2 separate regions of the Homo sapiens genome follow, and region 2 is linked to region 1. Evidence: fine-mapped expression QTL. Tissue or cell type: gastroesophageal junction. Region 1 holds a variant in brackets; the other region holds the start of a gene. All regions are shown on one strand. Distances are from middle to middle.

Region 1 (8,103 bases):
GTGGCATTCCCCACTACTGGCCGGTGCTTAGAGGCCCATAAAACCTCTCTTCACCTAATCCACCTGGCAGAGCCCTCAGAGATGACGTCAGCCAACCCAGCTGGACTGGCCTTACTTCTGCCTTTTTCACCTGTATGTTAAAAAACAAAAACAAAAAAACCCTATCCCTGTGCCCCAAAGCTAGGGCATGTGCGATGCCCAACAGCCTCCACTCTGCAAGCTCATACTGGGCCCTGCCCTCCATCGCCCCAGACAGGCCCACAGACGAGGGCTGGTCTCCTTCACATTTGTGTGGGGGTGGGGGCACGCTTCCTCTTCCTTCTCTCCCTGTCCCCCTTTGGGGACATCCCTCTCTAGGCCTAGGCCATGTCTCCTGGTTCAGGAACACTCTCTCAGGAGGATCTCGAAGTGCCCACTCTAGTCCGCTCCAGTAGCTCCACTCTGGAGCGAGATGGCTGGTAGGTCAGTCCCCATCCTCCTCCCCTCGGCCCCCAGCCTCCAGGCCTGCTGTGGAGGTGAGATCGCCATGGGTCATGACTTTGTGACTTGAGTCCTGGGCATCTTCTGTAATGATGCCTCTTTCTTTTCTCAGATGTTGCCCACAGTTTAGCAAAAAGCTTCGTTCATTTTCAGGTACTCCCCACCCCCTAAAGAATTGGCTGCAACTTGCCAGCCAGGGGGACATCAGGAGAGAAGAGGAAGTCTGGGTTGGGAGGGGCCCAAGTTTTGCAACAGAGTTTCCATTGTTCAGCTCTGTGCTTTCTTGGATTCCCTTTCCAAGATTACCAAGATTTCCTCCATTAAAACTCCTGAGGCACCCCCTGCCCCTGCCCCCCACTGCTGTTTGCTGTACATAGAGGCTAAGTGGGGTGGGGTGGGTGGGTGTGCACATGTGGTGTGTGTGTGTGTGTGTGAAGAATGTATATAGGTAAAGGGGAGTGTGGTCCAGTGGTTCCAGAAAAGGGACAGAACTGTGTTCTGTCCCTAGCTTGACCGCTGGCTCGCTGTGTGGCCTTGGGCAAGTCACTTAACCTCTCTGTGCCTCAGTTTCCCCATCTGTAAAATGGGGATAATAATACTGACCTACCTCACAGGGGTGTTGTGAGGCTTTAACTAAATGTTTTGTAAAGCGTTTTGAGATACAGAGGCAAAGGCGCTAGGGAAGGGCAAAGTATTATTGGACTTAAGGAAGCTGAAATGGTACCATAAATGCTGCTATTCTGAGAGCCATTTTAAACTGCACTGCTCCAACCACCCCCGCTTCTCATCACCAGGACAGCAGGTCGAGAAAATGTCTTTCCTTTCACTTGCTTCTGGGGTTTGTGATTATTCAAGACAATTTTTTCCCCTTGCTGTATCTCCTTCCCTCACCTCCTCGACTTGTTCCCTGTTCTGTTTATGCGGAAATGGCAGAAATGCTTGAGAAATGAGAATGTGTAAGTGGATTGGAAGTTTATAGTATGAAATTTCAATTTTACTTTGTACTGTACATCTTTTTACTTTAGAATTTGCAATAAAGGGTTACGTCAATCTTGTTTTCAACTCTCCTCTTGGACTGGCCTGTCATTCTGTCATTGCCCTCACACTGAAGCCCAAGGTGGACAGGCACCACCACCTCGCAGGACCCCACTCTGTCCCGTGGCGGGGACAGAAGTCTGCGTAAGGGCTCACCGCGGCTCAGCCCCTTAGCTGGGCAGGCAGTGCCCTAGCCACTCCCAGGTGTGTGGGAAAGGTTTGGGACTCCACTCAGCATGTCAGGAGGCCTTGCCTGGCGGGGGGCAGCACCTTGGAGGCGGCGCCCTGCACGTGGGCACACCCCTCTCTAGTGGTGCTGCCTCTGCACACTCCAGCAGAGCCCCAGAGTAGCCCCGAGGGGGAGCTGCACATCTTGTTCTGGTCCCCATCACGTTTTTCAAGCCCCTTATTGCGCACACACCTTTCCTTCTGGAGCTCAAACTTTCAGGTCAGACGGCCGTAGGTTCGAGAACGTGACTATGCCACTAACTAGCTGTGGCCGAGTTTCCGCATGTGTGATGGAGACAATACCTTCCTCCTTGAGTTTTGAAGAGTACATCAAATAATGTATGTAACTAGTTAGCATGAGGCCTGGCACACAGTGCGCAATAAGTGGTAACTCTTCGTGGAAGAATAATTGCAAGATAAGAAGGAATCTGCCTGGCGCAGTGGCTCACGCCTGTAATCCCAGCACTCTGGGAGGCCCAGGCAGGCGGATCACTTGAGCCCAGGAGTTGGAGACCAACTTGGCCAACAAGGCGAAACCCCGTCTCTACTAAAAACACAAAAATTAGCGGGGCGTGGCTGCGCACACCTGTAGTCCCAGCTACTCGGGAGGCTGAGGCAGGAGAATCGCTTGAATCCTTGAACCCCGGAGGCAGAGGTTGCAGTGAGCAGAGATCGCACCACTGCCCTCCAGCCTGGGCAACAGAGCGAGGCTCCTTCTTAAAAAAAAAAAAAAAAGCTAAGCTGACAAGAATTGGGCGGTGCACCTGCCACCCTGGGAGCCTGGTACCTGAGCCCCTCTTCCACCGGCAGTCCCACGGGCTTTGCTGCTCCTTTCCAACGGATTAACAAACTCTCTGCTCTTTCGGTATTTCTTAACGTTTATAAACCGTCCAAAGCACCACTGCCCCAAGACTGTGCTCCCATTTTACAGCTGAGGGCAAGGGCACTGTGAGGTGAGGGAGAATCTGGCCCATCTGCAGCCCAGGCCCCCGGGGGCGCGCGCCGCTCTTTAGGAAGGAGCAGCTTTGTTTCCCACCAGCCCTGCACTGTGGCGAGCGGGCCGGGGCTGCCGGGCGACGCCCGGTCGCCGTCGCCGCCAGTGATCCATAGCGTGAGCAGGACGACCAGCGCCCCGGTGCCCAGCGCCCCCACGAAGCCGGTGAGGAGGCCGAGCGCCAGCGGCCCCGCCCAACCCATGGGGCTCCGCTCGTACAGGGGCTGCGGCAGGCGCTCCACGATCAGCTGCAGGGCGTCCCAGTCCGGCGCGGGGACCGCGGCGCGCCGGGGGCGCGGGGCCGGGGCAAAGGGCACGCGGGCGGCGGCGCCGGGCCGCGGCAGGAAGCGCTGCCCGAACTTGCGCAGCTGCAGCGTCGCCTGCTGGTGGAGGTTCTTGCCCAGCTCCCTGGCCACGTCCGGGCGGCCGCTGCGCCGCAGGGCCCGAGCCAGGCGGTCCCAGGACAGGGACGCGGCCTGGGGGGCCAGCCAGGCCGCCAGCGCCTCCCGGCAGCCGTCGGACACCTCTCCAGGCCCGGCTACCCTGCCCGCCGGGTCCTCGGCCGCCTCTCGCCGCCGCCGCCGGCTCGGAGACCCCGACGTGGTGTTGAGCGGCTCAGGCCGCGCCAGCCGGTCTTCAGAAAGCCGGGACAACTCGGCCTCCACGTCGGGCTCGGGCGCCTCCAGGAGCGACCGGAAATGGCCGCACTCCTCCGGGGTCAGCAGCTCGGCCAGACGGACGGCTGCGTGAGGGCCCATAGCGTCCACGGCCCCCGCCGGAGCCAGCGCCCAAACCCAGAGCGTGAGGACCAAGGCGCTCGCCAGAGTCCGCGCCGCCATCCCTGGCGGGAACCAGGGACCGAGGACTGTGCGGGGACGGGGACGTGGACGGGCTCCGCGCCGGTGATGGGGGAGGGGTTCCGAACGCCCGCGGATTGTGGGAGGGAGGAGGCTCCGAACAGTCGGGAAGCCTAGTGGAGGAGGGGACTGGGGACAAGGGGGCTGCCAACACCCAGCGACGGAGACGGGGACTCCGACATGGCACTTGTTGGAGGGTCTCACGAAACTCAGGAACTGGGGTAAGAGGGCTTGCAACACCCAGGAAGGGGGTTCTCAGCCCCCCAGGAGGCTAGGATTCTGGGCTTTTACATTGTAGCTCCTGCCCTAGGCCTCCTAATAGCCACTAATACCTCAAACTGAACAAGTTACCAACATCTCTTCTAATTCATGTACTCCCCAACCGTTCCCCTTTACGAAAAGCCCTAGACCCCTTGCTCTCCATTAACTTCGATATTCAATCAATTCCTACATTCTCTTTTTTTATTTTCTTTTGTGCAGATAGGGGTCTTGCTGTGTTGCGCAGGCTGGTCTCCAGCTCCAGCCTCCGCCTCTGCCACCACCTCCCAAAGTGCTGTGATGACAGGAATGAGCCACCATGCCTGGCCTCAATTCCTAAATTCTCCTCTTGTCTACCAAATACTAAAGTTTAGTATTTATTAAATGAATCCATCATCCCATTCTCCCACTCCAGTGCAAGTCCAGACCCTCCTCCTCTCTTGCTGGTCCTCCAGCCCCCATCCTTGCCCCCCAACACTGGGGCCCTGCCTACCTGCACTTATTCCATTTCCCCCAAGGAAGCTTGGCTCTGGCTCTCCTTCTGATCGCGGCCTGCACTCCTCCTGCTGTCAGGCGCCTTTGGGAAGCCCTCCCTGACTCCGAGTCACACCCCTTAGTGGTGTCCCCATTAGGGACTCCTCCTATCTGCCCCACAGCACACTGCAGCTCGGCCTTTTTACTGTCTCCGCCAACTAGACTGCAAGGTCCATACATTGTCCCCATGGCAACTAGAGCATAATAAGTGTTCAGTAAAGATTTGTTGAGTCAATGTGTGAATTTTTTGTTTTTTTAAGAGACAGGGTCTCCTGCTGCTGCCCAGGCTGGTCTCGGAACTCCTGGGCTCAAGGGATCCTCCTGCCTCAGCCTCCCAAAGCGCAAGGATTACAGGCATGAGCCACAAGGCAGGGCCATTGTGTGAATTCTTAACTTGCAAATCAGTCCTGTCCTCGGCCCCCTAAACTCCCACAAAGGCTTCATCATAGAGCCCCAGCTCCTAGCAGGGCATGGAAGGCCCTCCATAGTGAGGTCCCCGCTGACTCCTCCAGCCTCACTCCTCCAATTCCTGCCCTCACTATCTTGTAACACAACAAGACTCGTGGCACAGCACGTAAGATGCAGTTTCC[A/G]GCCTCCATACTTTGCCCAGCTATCCCCCTCCCCTCCTGGGTAGGAAGTTTTCCTGACACCCCACCAAGACCACCACAAGTCAGGATCTTTTCTGGGCATTGTTTGTTTGTTTTGTTTTGTTTTGTATCAGAATCTCCCTCTGTCACCCAAGTTGGAGTGCAGCGGCATGATCTCGGCTCACTGCAACCTCTGTCTCCCAGGTCCAAGTGATTCTCGTGCCTCAACCTCCCAAGTAGCTTGGACTACAGGTGTGCACCACCATGCCCAGCTAATTTTTGTATTTTTAGTAGAGACTAGGTTTCACCATGTTGACCAGGCTGGTCTCAAACTCCTGACCTCAAGTGATCCGTCCACCTTGGCCTCCCAAAGTGCTGGGATTACAGACGTGAGCCACCGCGCCCCCAGCCATTTCTTGGCATTCTTAAGATAACCTGTGCATCCTCCACCAGGGCACTCATCTGGAAATTAGAGGATTTATTCAAGAAACATCTATTCAATGTCTTGTATGTACCAGATAATTGCACTAGGTGTATGAATATAAAGACTACTTTGATGTGGTCCCCCATCCCCAGCAGCTTTATCCAGTTGTATTTTTAAATGATCAATTTCTGAGCTTTTCCCACCTAGACATGGGCTCCAGGAATAGCAGCTGTGCTTGACCCCTTCTGTATCCTCAGTGCCAGGCCCAATGTCTGCACACAGTAAGGTGCAAAATAGAGGAGTGGGGGCAGGTGGGTCTGGACCTCCAAGGGCTGAGAGGCTTGTGGTAATGGACTCTGGGGCAGTGCCTTAGAGCCCCCACCTCCAGGCACACTCACATTTGTGTCCTCTTTGCTTTGCAGGGTCTCCCTGATGCTCACGCTGCCTCCTGTATGTGTGCAGTGAGCCATAGCAGGGAGCCTGGGTGCACTACTCCCCTGTGCTCTTGCGCATGCTCAGCAATCTTGCCTAGAGTATTCAAGGACCTAGGAGCTGTGGGTCCAAATCTCTCACTGACATCTCTACAGAGCTTGTTCAGCAAGTGTTCCTAGGTTGTTCAGTCTCCCAGTTTACGATGAGCTGTCACAGATAGAGTTAGGGGACTGATGGATGGGGGGATGGTAGACAAAGGACACCACGTCACCTGAGACATTGGAACTTGGCCGTCTCCACACCCCGCCCTCTATCCACTTTATCTCCACTGAGAATGGAATACAAGTATAACCCTAGCTCTATTCAATGAAGGCTGCTGCAGGTTCTGGATGGCTCCTCCCTCTCTTCAGCAACCCCCTTCCTCCATGCATTCATTTCTTCACTCATTCAACAAACATGTGAGCCCTTCCTTGCCCCCCTATTTTGTGGCTCTGGGGATACAATGAGCCTGCCCCAGTGCTGAATGTCAGAGCTCAGAACGGCAGGAAGGCCCCTTACCCATGGCTTCTTCCCCATAGCCTCAGTGCCCATTCCTGTAGGTACTCACTGTATCACAGTGAGTCACAGGAGTCCTTGCTCCTTGTTACTAGGGGATTAGGAACACCCCGCCCAGGGCACCAGCATACACAGGTGTCCAGACATCTCCCAGAGGACTCCCACATCCCACTGCCCCCGAGAAATCTTCTGCAAACCACATGTCATCGCTTTAATACTGTGTAATACTTTCTTTTAAAATACAGTCTCTTCTGAGGTAGACAGACCACAACTGCAGAGCATCGTCAGACAGGAGATAAATACGTCCATGTACAACACGCAGCAAAATGAGGTAGAAATGGTTACAGCGGGAGGAGAGGATCCCAGCCCCAGTCTGGGTAGAGGAAGGGGAGAGGCCAGCTCGGAAGTCACCCTCCCCACTCCCTGCCCCTGGATTCTTTGGTATGCCTCCCCCCAGCATTACCAGAGCTGGACTGGCCCTTCCCCTACCTGCCCCAGAGCCCATGAGGTAGGTGCCACTAGGCTGGGGGCAGTCTCCTTGTGCAAAGCTCCCCAAGCCTGGGGAACAGGAGGAGCCTAGTAGAGAAAGCGGTGGGGACTCCACCTCCCAGAGCTCCCTGCCTCTTGAAGGGAAGGCTGGGATCCCACCCCAACTTCCCTGACACCCTCCACCCACCCCCACCCCCCAATACATACACACCTGAGAGAGAACCCCTCACTCCATGCTCCCTCCGAGGGTCTTTTGCAGCCTGCGGCTGTGACCCGGCAGCCCACTGCTTCTGAGGCACCAAAGCCCTGTGGGTGGCTGGCTCCAAAGAGGGGGCCAGAAAGCAACGGGGGTGGGGGGGAACAGAGCAGCCTTCTGGTCAGCACTCCTAGGCCAGCACAGGCCCTGGGTGCCAGGGCCCCTGAAAGATCCCCCCCAGACACCCTCCCAGCCAGGGGGGAGGCAGTAGACTCTAGGAAATGCACGGGCAGGCAAGGAACTGCACAGGAGGCTGAGATGGGAGAGAGAAAAAGTGGTGGTGGGGGGGCGTGTCCCCTGCTTTGGACTAAGATCAGAGTTGTGAAATGGGCTGGGGGTGGTGGGAGCAAACTGCTAAAGCCTCATCAAGGGAAAATTGGTGGGAAGGAGAGAAATATGGTTCTTGGAAGGGTTCCAAGCCTAGTGGAAAGTTCAGGCAGGACTGAGACTAAGCCCCCAAGGTCAGAGAAAACACCCCTGCCCATCTCCCTCACCCTCTCCCAGCCCTGGAGCTCCAGACCTAGGACTCCGGGGGAATGGGGAAGGCACATTTCCTCACAGAGCCCCCACAAGTGAGGGATGCTCACTCCTCCTCAGAGCCTCCAGCAGAGATGGCTGAGGTCCAGTAGCTGATTTTGTGGCCAGACTGTCTACCCAGATGGAATCCTCCTAGCATAAGTCACTGGGGACCTCTGCCAAGGCAGGGCCAGGGGACATGACCTTTCTGGAGACTTTCTGCTTAGGTCACCTTCCCATTTGGGCCCTCCCACCCTACCTTCTGGGTCTCAGGAAGGAATTGGGCAAGGGCATCCTAACTCTGGATAGCCCTTCACAGAAAACACTCAGCGGAGGGGTTGGGTGGGGCAGGGGGTGGGGAGCAGCAGGAGAGGAATAAGGCCTCCCTTCTCTCAAACCCCACAGCCCACTCCCCACATTCATGCCTAGGCCTCGGCCCTGGGGAGGAAGCCCTTAGG
Region 2 (8,084 bases), 250 kb after region 1:
ACCTAGGAGAAGCAGTTATCTGAAGGCAGTTGGAACCTGAAAGCAGGAAAATACTAATGTCCCAGTTCTAAGACAGTCAGGCAGGAGTTCCCCTTACTCACTGAAGGGTCAACCTGTTGGTTCTACTAGGCTTTCAACTGATTGGATGAAGCCCCTCCACACCGGGAAGGGAAATCGGCTTCACTGTCTGCCAATTCCAATGTTAGGCTCATCAGAACACCCCACAGACAAGCCCAGAATCATACTTAACCAACTGTCTAGGTACCCTGTGTCCCAGTCAAGCTGACACGTAAAATTAAGCATCACAGGAAACCACTATGCATCACTATGTATGACTGGGCTTCAGTTATAATATCAAGTAAATCAGAGAGTGGAGTGTCGGGGAGGTGGACTGTATCTACCTTGAAAGGTAGTTGGAAAAATCAGCACAATAGGGCCTATGAGTGCTGGCATTGTACCTAGCAAGGTTCAATGATTGGTAGTAGTGATGATGATGATGATGATGATGATGTCAGGCTAGTGGTCGCAAAGGGCTGAGTTGGAGTGTGTGGATGGCCAGAGAGATCAGTCACTTCCCTTACTCACTGGCAGTCTCTGGGGATGGGCTCTGGCACCTCCTCCACTCCAGGACTGGTTCCAACCTCCCTTGGTCCCTCTCTCAGCTTCTTACAGACCCTTCCCTCTCAATATTTCCTCCTGATTGCCGTCTGGTTTTGTGCAGCCTCCCGAAGAGGTCGCTGGTGTGTAGGGCAGGCAGCTTTCTCTTTCTCCCAGGAGAGGCACCCACACCTGGGATAAGAGGCAAGGGCTGAAAAAGGGCAGAACTGTGGGGAGGAAGGGAAGAGGATAGGGAGCAGATGATGGTGGAAAGGCCAGCCTGAGGAGGAGCTTGTGCAGCCAGGTTTCGAAGAACTGAATGGGAGGGGGAAGCCTAAGGGTGAGGTGGTGACAGTGGTGTGCTGGAGCCAGCTGGCACTGGCCCTCAAGGGCTGATTTTAACCTTGACGATCAAGATGCAATCATCCATCCGTTCTGGACTCTGCATTCATTGATGTCTTGTAGTTTGAAATCACCTATGATAGGAAATGGGCAAATGCTACAAATCAAGGCATTTCCCTTACCAGAGAGCAGGTGTGAAGCATTTATCAGGACACCACTGGTGGGTGGGGGTGTATTGGAGAGTGGTGGTACATAGGAGAGAGTTGGCTGAAGAAGCCAGCCAGAAAGAGAGCTCCCATAGTGGCAAAGAGCTTTCGATTTGAACTCAAGGCTCTGTTATTTACTGAATGACCTTGGGCCACTTACTTAACCTCTCCCCAGTCACTTTCTTTTTCTTTTTTTTTTTTTGAGACGGAGTCTCGCTCTTTCACCAGGCTGGAGTGCAGTGGTGTGATCTCTGCTCACTGCAACCTCTGCCTCCCCGGTTCAAGCGATTCTCCTGACTCAGCCTCCGGAGTAGCTGGCATTACAGGTGTGTGCCACCAAGCTTGGCTATTTTTTTTTTTTTTGTATTTTTAGTAGAGACAGGGTTTCACCATGTTGGTTAGGCTGGTCTCGAACTCATGACCTCAAATGATCCACCTGCCTCGGCCTCCCAAAGTGCTGGGATTACAGGCGTGAGCCACCATGCCCGGCCCAATTTCTTATCTATATTGCAGGATTGATTAGTATCAGGTTTAAATTTATATGTACACATATATGGTATTTAAAATCATGACCTTTCCATTCCACCTAATAAATGTTATCTATTATCGTTTTGGGAAATAAAAGCATGTGTTAGAAAAATCAGCTTTTTTTTTTTTTTTGAGACAGGGTTTCTCTCCGTTGCCCAGGCTGGAGTGCCGTGGTGCAGTCTCAGCTCATTGCAACCTCCACCTCCCAGGTTCAAGCAATTCTTCTGCCTCAGCCTCCCAAGTAGCTGGGATTACAGGTGCCTGACACCACACCTGGCTTTTTTTTTTTTTTTGTATTTTTGGTAGAGATGAGGTTTCACCATATTGGCCAGGCTGGTCTCAAACTCCTGACCTCGAGTGATCCATCAGCCTCGACCTCCCAAAGTACCGGGATTACAGGCATGAGCCATCACACCCGACTTTTTTTTTTTTTTCTTTTTGAGACAGGATCTTGTTTTGTCATTCAGCCTGCAATGCAGTGGCGTGATTATAGCTCACTGCAGCTTCAACCTCCTGGGCTCAGGTGATCCTCCACCTCAGCCTCTGAAGTAGCTGGGACTACAGGGGTACACCAACACGCCCAGCTAAATTTTTAATTTTTATTTTAAAGATGGGAGTCTCACTATGTCGACCAGGCTGGTCTTGAACCCCCGGCCCCAGGTGATGCTCTGTCCTAAGCCTTCCAAAATGTTGGGATCACAGGCGTGAGGCACCCCAATGGGCCAGAAAATGAGCATGGTAATCCCCAGCTAACACCTTAAGAATGCCTCCTGGCCGGTCGCGGTGGCTCACGCCTGTAATCCCAGCACTTTGGGAGGCCGAGGCGGGCAGATCACGAGGTCAGGATATCGAGACCATCCTGGCTAACACGGTGAAAACCCGTCTCTACTAAAAAAAATACAAAAAAAATTAGCCGGGCGTGGTGGTGGGCGCCTGTAGTCCCAGCTACTCGGGAGGCTGAGGCAGGAGAATGACGTGAACCCAGGAGGCGGAGCTTGCAGTGAGCCGAGATAGCGCCACTGCACTCCAGCCTGGGCGACAGAGCGAGACGCCGTCTCAAAAAAAAAAAAAAAAAAAAAAAAAAAAAAAATACTGCCTCCTATTGGAGGTGGGTGCATTAACCGAGCTCTCGAAGCCCTGTCTGCTCTGGGCTTACAATCTACATGGAGAACCAAATGCGCTCCAGGAAGTTACACAGCACTAAAAATACACTTGTATTCATATTAGACTTTACAGGTCACAGAAATCTTTCATATGAGTTATCTCCTGTGATCCTCACAACAGCCACCTGTTTATAGAGAGCATCAGAAAGGATGAGTGATGTTGAGGGTCACGCAGAGAAGCAATGGCCGAATTACTAGCCTCCGAAGGACTGTCACCAGATTGGTCACCATGGGGTATCAAGTAGTGCTGCTGCATAAAGGCAACACTGAGAGATGAAGCCCCTTTCTCCAGCATCTGTGTGGGTGGAGGGCCAGGGATCCCGTCTGTTACGCACATTCAACAAACTCAAGTTTTGCCATCCACTGGGCGTCCTGCAGTACAGCGGTGTGGGCTCATCTCCAGGACCTCTCTCTACGGGGTACGCCCCTCATCTTGCGGTGATCAGTGTTCCTTCCAGACCTCTCAGTCCGGACTGAGTTGGGCACCGCGTCAGCGTCTCCCGGCCAGGCTCGCCGCCGATGACTCCGCTCGGCCTAGGGAGGCGGCCGAGAGCCCGTAGGGCTCCTCCTTCCCTCCAGTCTCTATGGCGGAAGTGAGTTGTACGGGCCGAAACACCACAGCGTTCTCGGTGGTGGGCTGAATGGACTCGTCCACATGAGGGGGATCTTCATCACCATCAACTCTTAAAATCCGAGACATAACCACGAAAGGAGCAGCCCCCAGATCAGAGAGCAACGCATGACTATCTGCGTGTGCTTCTGTGACTACGCGGATGTTGTGGGCGGCTACATGCGTGCGGGGGCCCGGCGAGCTGGGCAGGTGCCCCCTCCGGGGCCGTGGGATCTGGTGAGCTTCCCGGCGCGCGGGGGGCGGTGCGGCTTCCGGTCCCGGCTCAGCCTCCGACCCAGGTGGTCTGGAGCCTGCCGGGAGAGTGGTGGCATCTGAGAGGCTGGTCGTGGACTGTGGTTGGGGGAGGTGGGAGCTGTTTTAACCGTGTGCCCCCTCTCCTGTGCCGGCGTGGGCATCCCCCGGGGCAGTGGAACGCGGGCGCTCCTCCAGCTTCCGAGTCCAGCCAGCCTGGGCGCGGGGCGCCGCCCCCGAGACACCCGAGGAGTCCGTTCCTCCCTGGTTACGTGGACTGTGGAGGTTCGCGCGTAGTGGCGGCGGGGGATACGGGACCCGGGCGGGAATTCCTTCCTGCGTCCGTCCCGAGTCTCTTGATATGGAGCCAAGTAAGTTTTCTGGTTTTGCTTTTAGCTGGTCTCTTGTGGCTCAGCGCCGTGCGGAGGTTGAAGCGTACCTGCGGAGGTCGCACCAGGGCGTGAGGAGGAGGAGGAAGGGCATGAGCCGAGCTTGAGGAATCCGTGCTCCAAACTCTACACTCAAGGTGGGAATGGGCGCACCCTGTGCTCCAGCCAGGCTTGAGAAGGCGGCTGTTAGCCTCTGCCACTCGGGGGGACAAGAGGGACGAGACTTTCCAGACCCTACTCTGGTGGGCCCTGCTTGCTCACTGCTCACTGTGTGGGGCAGGGGACAACAAGGTTTTCACAGACCAAATGTGGCAGCTGTGGGAAGGAGAATGGGGTTGGTCAGGACTGACTTCTTGGAGGAGTGGATCCTAAAATAGCACGTAGAATGAGGGAGGAGCCCAGGCTTGGGGCACAAGTGAGATGTGTGGCTTGTGTGAACGATTGCGGGGGACACAAGAGGGAGAAGTCGTGGAAGAAAGGGAGCCGGACCAGAGCCGGGAGTCTCTAGATGGGAAGAAAACTGCTGGATGGAGTAAAACTGGAGGGCAAAACGAGCAAGAGAGCCCTTCTCCTTCTTGATCCAAGCATGTAGGAGAAACTAATCCAGCAACCCCTGGAAGAACCTGGAATTCCTGGGTTGGGCTCAATTGAGCAGTTGTTTTGTAGAAGGTACTAGGAATTACCATTATAGTGATGAATGGAATATAGTCTCTGCCCTATAAGCAGAATATAGGAATTGTTTGCCTAGTGGTAGAGACAAAAACAAAACGTGATGGTGCTTGATAGTACAGGTAGACGCGAGCTGATCGCCAGCTGAGAGGCAGAGCTGGCCTGATCTCTGTGCGGTCCACAGACCGTTGCCCTGTATCCTGTGCTGAGCAACAGTTTAAAAGGGGCAGACACAAACTGAAATATACTTTTTATATTCACCATCTGTCAACCAGATGAGTGAAATATACTTAGAGGAGAGCTGCTAGGATTCCATGCAGATAAGATGTGATGTGGAACAGACATGTTTTTGAGGACTGGGGACCTTCAGCCTGTAGAAGGGGTGAGGGGGTGGTGGAATAGCTGCCCCTAAATAAAAACTCACTTGTGGAAAAGAGGTGAGACTTATTTTGTGTGGCTTTGGGTACCAAAACTAAAACTAAAAGTGGTTTGAAGCACTAAGAGACAGATTCTTCAGCAGAAAGAATAACTGGACTGGGTGCGGTAATCCCAGCACTTTGGGAGGCCGAGGCGGGTGGATCTCTTGAGCTCAGGAGTTCGAGACCAGCCTGGGTAACATGGCAAAACCCTTTCTTTACCAAAAATACAAAAAATTAGCCAGGTGTGGTGGTGTTCGCCTGTGTTCCCAGCTGCTTGGGAGGCTGGGATGGGAGCCTGGGAGGCAGAAGTTGCAGTGAGTAGAGATTGTGTCACTGTATTGCAGCCTGGGTGATGGAGTGAGACCCCATTTCATAAATAAAATAAATAAATAAATCAGAATAACTGAATAGAACTTCCTGAACATTGACTGGTTGTTGTGAGAGCTAGTGAATTCCCAGTCAGGGGAGGTTTGCAAGCTGAATACTCTGAGTTATAAGGAACTTGAAGCTCCCTCTCCCTCTGGGCATGTATTTAGTTATTATGTTCTAGTTCTCAAGTCTCTTGTTCTCTCCTTCCTACTCTCTCTACCACTGCTGTGTTATAGCCTTGCATCATCTCTTGGCAGTAACAATGTAATAATGAATTATAGCAGCTAATACTTAGTGGATATTTACCATTTGTCAGGTACTTATTTAAGTGTTTTATACATGCTAGCTCATTCAGCCCTCAACCCTTTCAAGGTAGCCATTATTATCTCTTTTGTATATGTGGCAGATAGGTGTTAAGCAGCTTGCCCAAGATCATGAGCATGGAGCAAGTGGCAGAGCTGGGGTTCCATTCCAGGTTGTCTGGCTTTCAAGTCATCGTTTTCAACCACTATTCTACTGTATTTTACATGTGTTACCTTAATTCTCACTACTATCCCCATTTACAGATAAGAAGTTCAGAGAGGTTGAGTGATTCGCTTAAGGTCATAGAGCAAGATGTAGATGAGGTGGGATTCAAACCCAGGACTGTAGGACATGAAAAACCGCCCACACCTGATTATGCTGCTTCTGTAACTACATCTACTGTAGTGGTCTTTAACTGACTTCCGTGCCCAGCCTTTGTGCCTTAAATCCACAAGTTTTTACCCTGGAGTCTGTGGATGTGGGTGTCTCTAGAAATAGGTGAGATTTGGTATATGTGTGTGTGTGAGAGTCATGTTTTTAAAGCCCAGTCTTCATGGCTTCATTCACTTCTCAGAGCAGTTTGTGACCCCAATACGGTTTAGAGCCATTCTTTGCCCTTTAGCCAAAGGTACTTGTCTTTTTTTTTTTAAATTTATTTTATTACTTTGTATTTTTGTTTTTTTTGAGACAGGGTCTCGCTTTGTCACTCAGGCTGGAGCACAGTGGCATGATCTCAGCTCACTGCAGCCTCAGCCTCCCACATTTAAGTTATCCTCCTGCCTCAGCCCCTCAAGTAACTGGGACTACAGGCGCCTGCCACCAGGCCCAGCTAATTTTTTATATTTTTGGTAGAGATGGGGTTTTATCATGTTTCCCAGGCTGGTCTTGAACTTTTGAGCTCAAGTGATTTGCCTCGGCCTCCCAAGTTGCTGGGATTAATGTGAGCCACCACACCCGGCCTAGAGGTACTTTTTTGATGCACAGATTTGATCTTGGCTTAGTGATGCATTGACTCTTCGCTGCTTTTAGGACAGAGTCCAAATGCCTTAACCTGTTCATTCAAGGTCCCAGGAAATCAGACTCCAATCTTTCTGTACTTCTTACTCCCACCCTGTACTCTCTCCGTGGTGATAATGTTTAGTTGCGTGCTTTTTCTTCATCCTGTCAGCCTGAGGGCAGGGGCCGTGCTTGCCTTTGATGTCTAGTACCTGACAAATGTTGCACAGTGAGCATCTGCTGTAAACTACATTGAAGGCTGTAAAATGGAATCCCAGCCTGTCATTTGGACTGATAACTTTGAAGCTCTTGCACTTTCTGATCCTGAGACTTGATGATTCGTTGATAGTGTGTGCTGCCAAAATGCAGAGAAGGGCCAGTGGAGGCAGAGGCTGAGCTGAGCCTAGAAGGAAGTGAACAGATAACACGTGGACTATTCTTGTCAGCATTCTGACCTGGGCTCCTTTTGCAGGGTGGCCCTTGGGTAGGGTGAAGATCCCCTGTCTTTATCCTAGTTCCACACCTTGGTGTGGGTTACTGGGTGCAGGATGAACTGTCGCTCGGAGGTGCTGGAGGTGTCGGTGGAGGGGCGGCAGGTGGAGGAGGCCATGCTGGCTGTGCTGCACACGGTGCTTCTGCACCGCAGCACAGGCAAGTTCCACTACAAGAAGGAGGGCACCTACTCCATTGGCACCGTGGGCACCCAGGATGTTGACTGTGACTTCATCGACTTCACTTATGTGCGTGTCTCTTCTGAGGAACTGGATCGTGCCCTGCGCAAGGTTGTTGGGGAGTTCAAGGTAAGGGTGTCGGGGAGTTCAAGGTAAGGGTGTGGCATAGCAGATGGCAGGGGGGCCTCGAGTGCTCCTCCACTCCAGCTTGGTGTTGAACCAGCCTTCTCTTCCTGAGTGCGTGAATCGGGTTCTTTCAGGTTCTGAGAAACAGATGTGTTGAGAGCTCCTCTTCAGGGGAGGGCGCGCGGGCGCGTGTGTGTGTGGTGGGGGAGGGAGAGACTCATAAATGTGCCTGGGGGAAAAGGGAGAGCAGGAAGCTGAGCAGTGTTGGCGGCCAGGTCCCCTGGGGCCATCCTTGCTTCTGTGGTCTTGACCTCTCTGGTTACAGCTCTCTCTGCTTCTGCTTCCACTTTTCCTTTCCCACATGAAACTCCCCCAGAGGACGGCTTGCTTGGTTCAGGTGGCTGCCATCCAAGATGGGAGTGTCCCTTTTGGTGGTGTGGCATT

The links. PIP is the estimated chance that this variant, and not a neighbour inherited with it, causes the effect.
Region 2: ATG101 starts here. The variant in region 1 is fine-mapped to the expression of ATG101 in gastroesophageal junction (GTEx, PIP above 0.99).

Annotation. Positions count from the first base shown.
Region 1 is chr12:51,811,318-51,819,420 of GRCh38, forward strand. It overlaps SCN8A (sodium voltage-gated channel alpha subunit 8), which reads left to right. Exons shown (of 27, transcript NM_001330260.2): 27 at 1-1,547. It overlaps TMDD1 (transmembrane and death domain 1), which reads right to left and starts at 3,608. Exons shown (of 1, transcript NM_001386737.1): 1 at 2,604-3,608. The coding sequence starts at 3,576. The coding sequence ends at 2,623. It overlaps FIGNL2 (fidgetin like 2), which reads right to left. Exons shown (of 2, transcript NM_001384995.1): 2 at 6,582-8,103. RefSeq lists a silencer at 3,120-3,199 and an enhancer at 3,308-3,807. The variant A/G (reference allele first, on the strand shown) is at 4,977.
Region 2 is chr12:52,066,260-52,074,343 of GRCh38, forward strand. ATG101 (autophagy related 101) reads left to right here and starts at 3,719. Exons shown (of 4, transcript NM_021934.5): 1 at 3,719-3,983; 2 at 4,095-4,224; 3 at 7,316-7,643. The coding sequence starts at 7,392. RefSeq lists enhancers at 3,185-3,474, 3,352-4,067.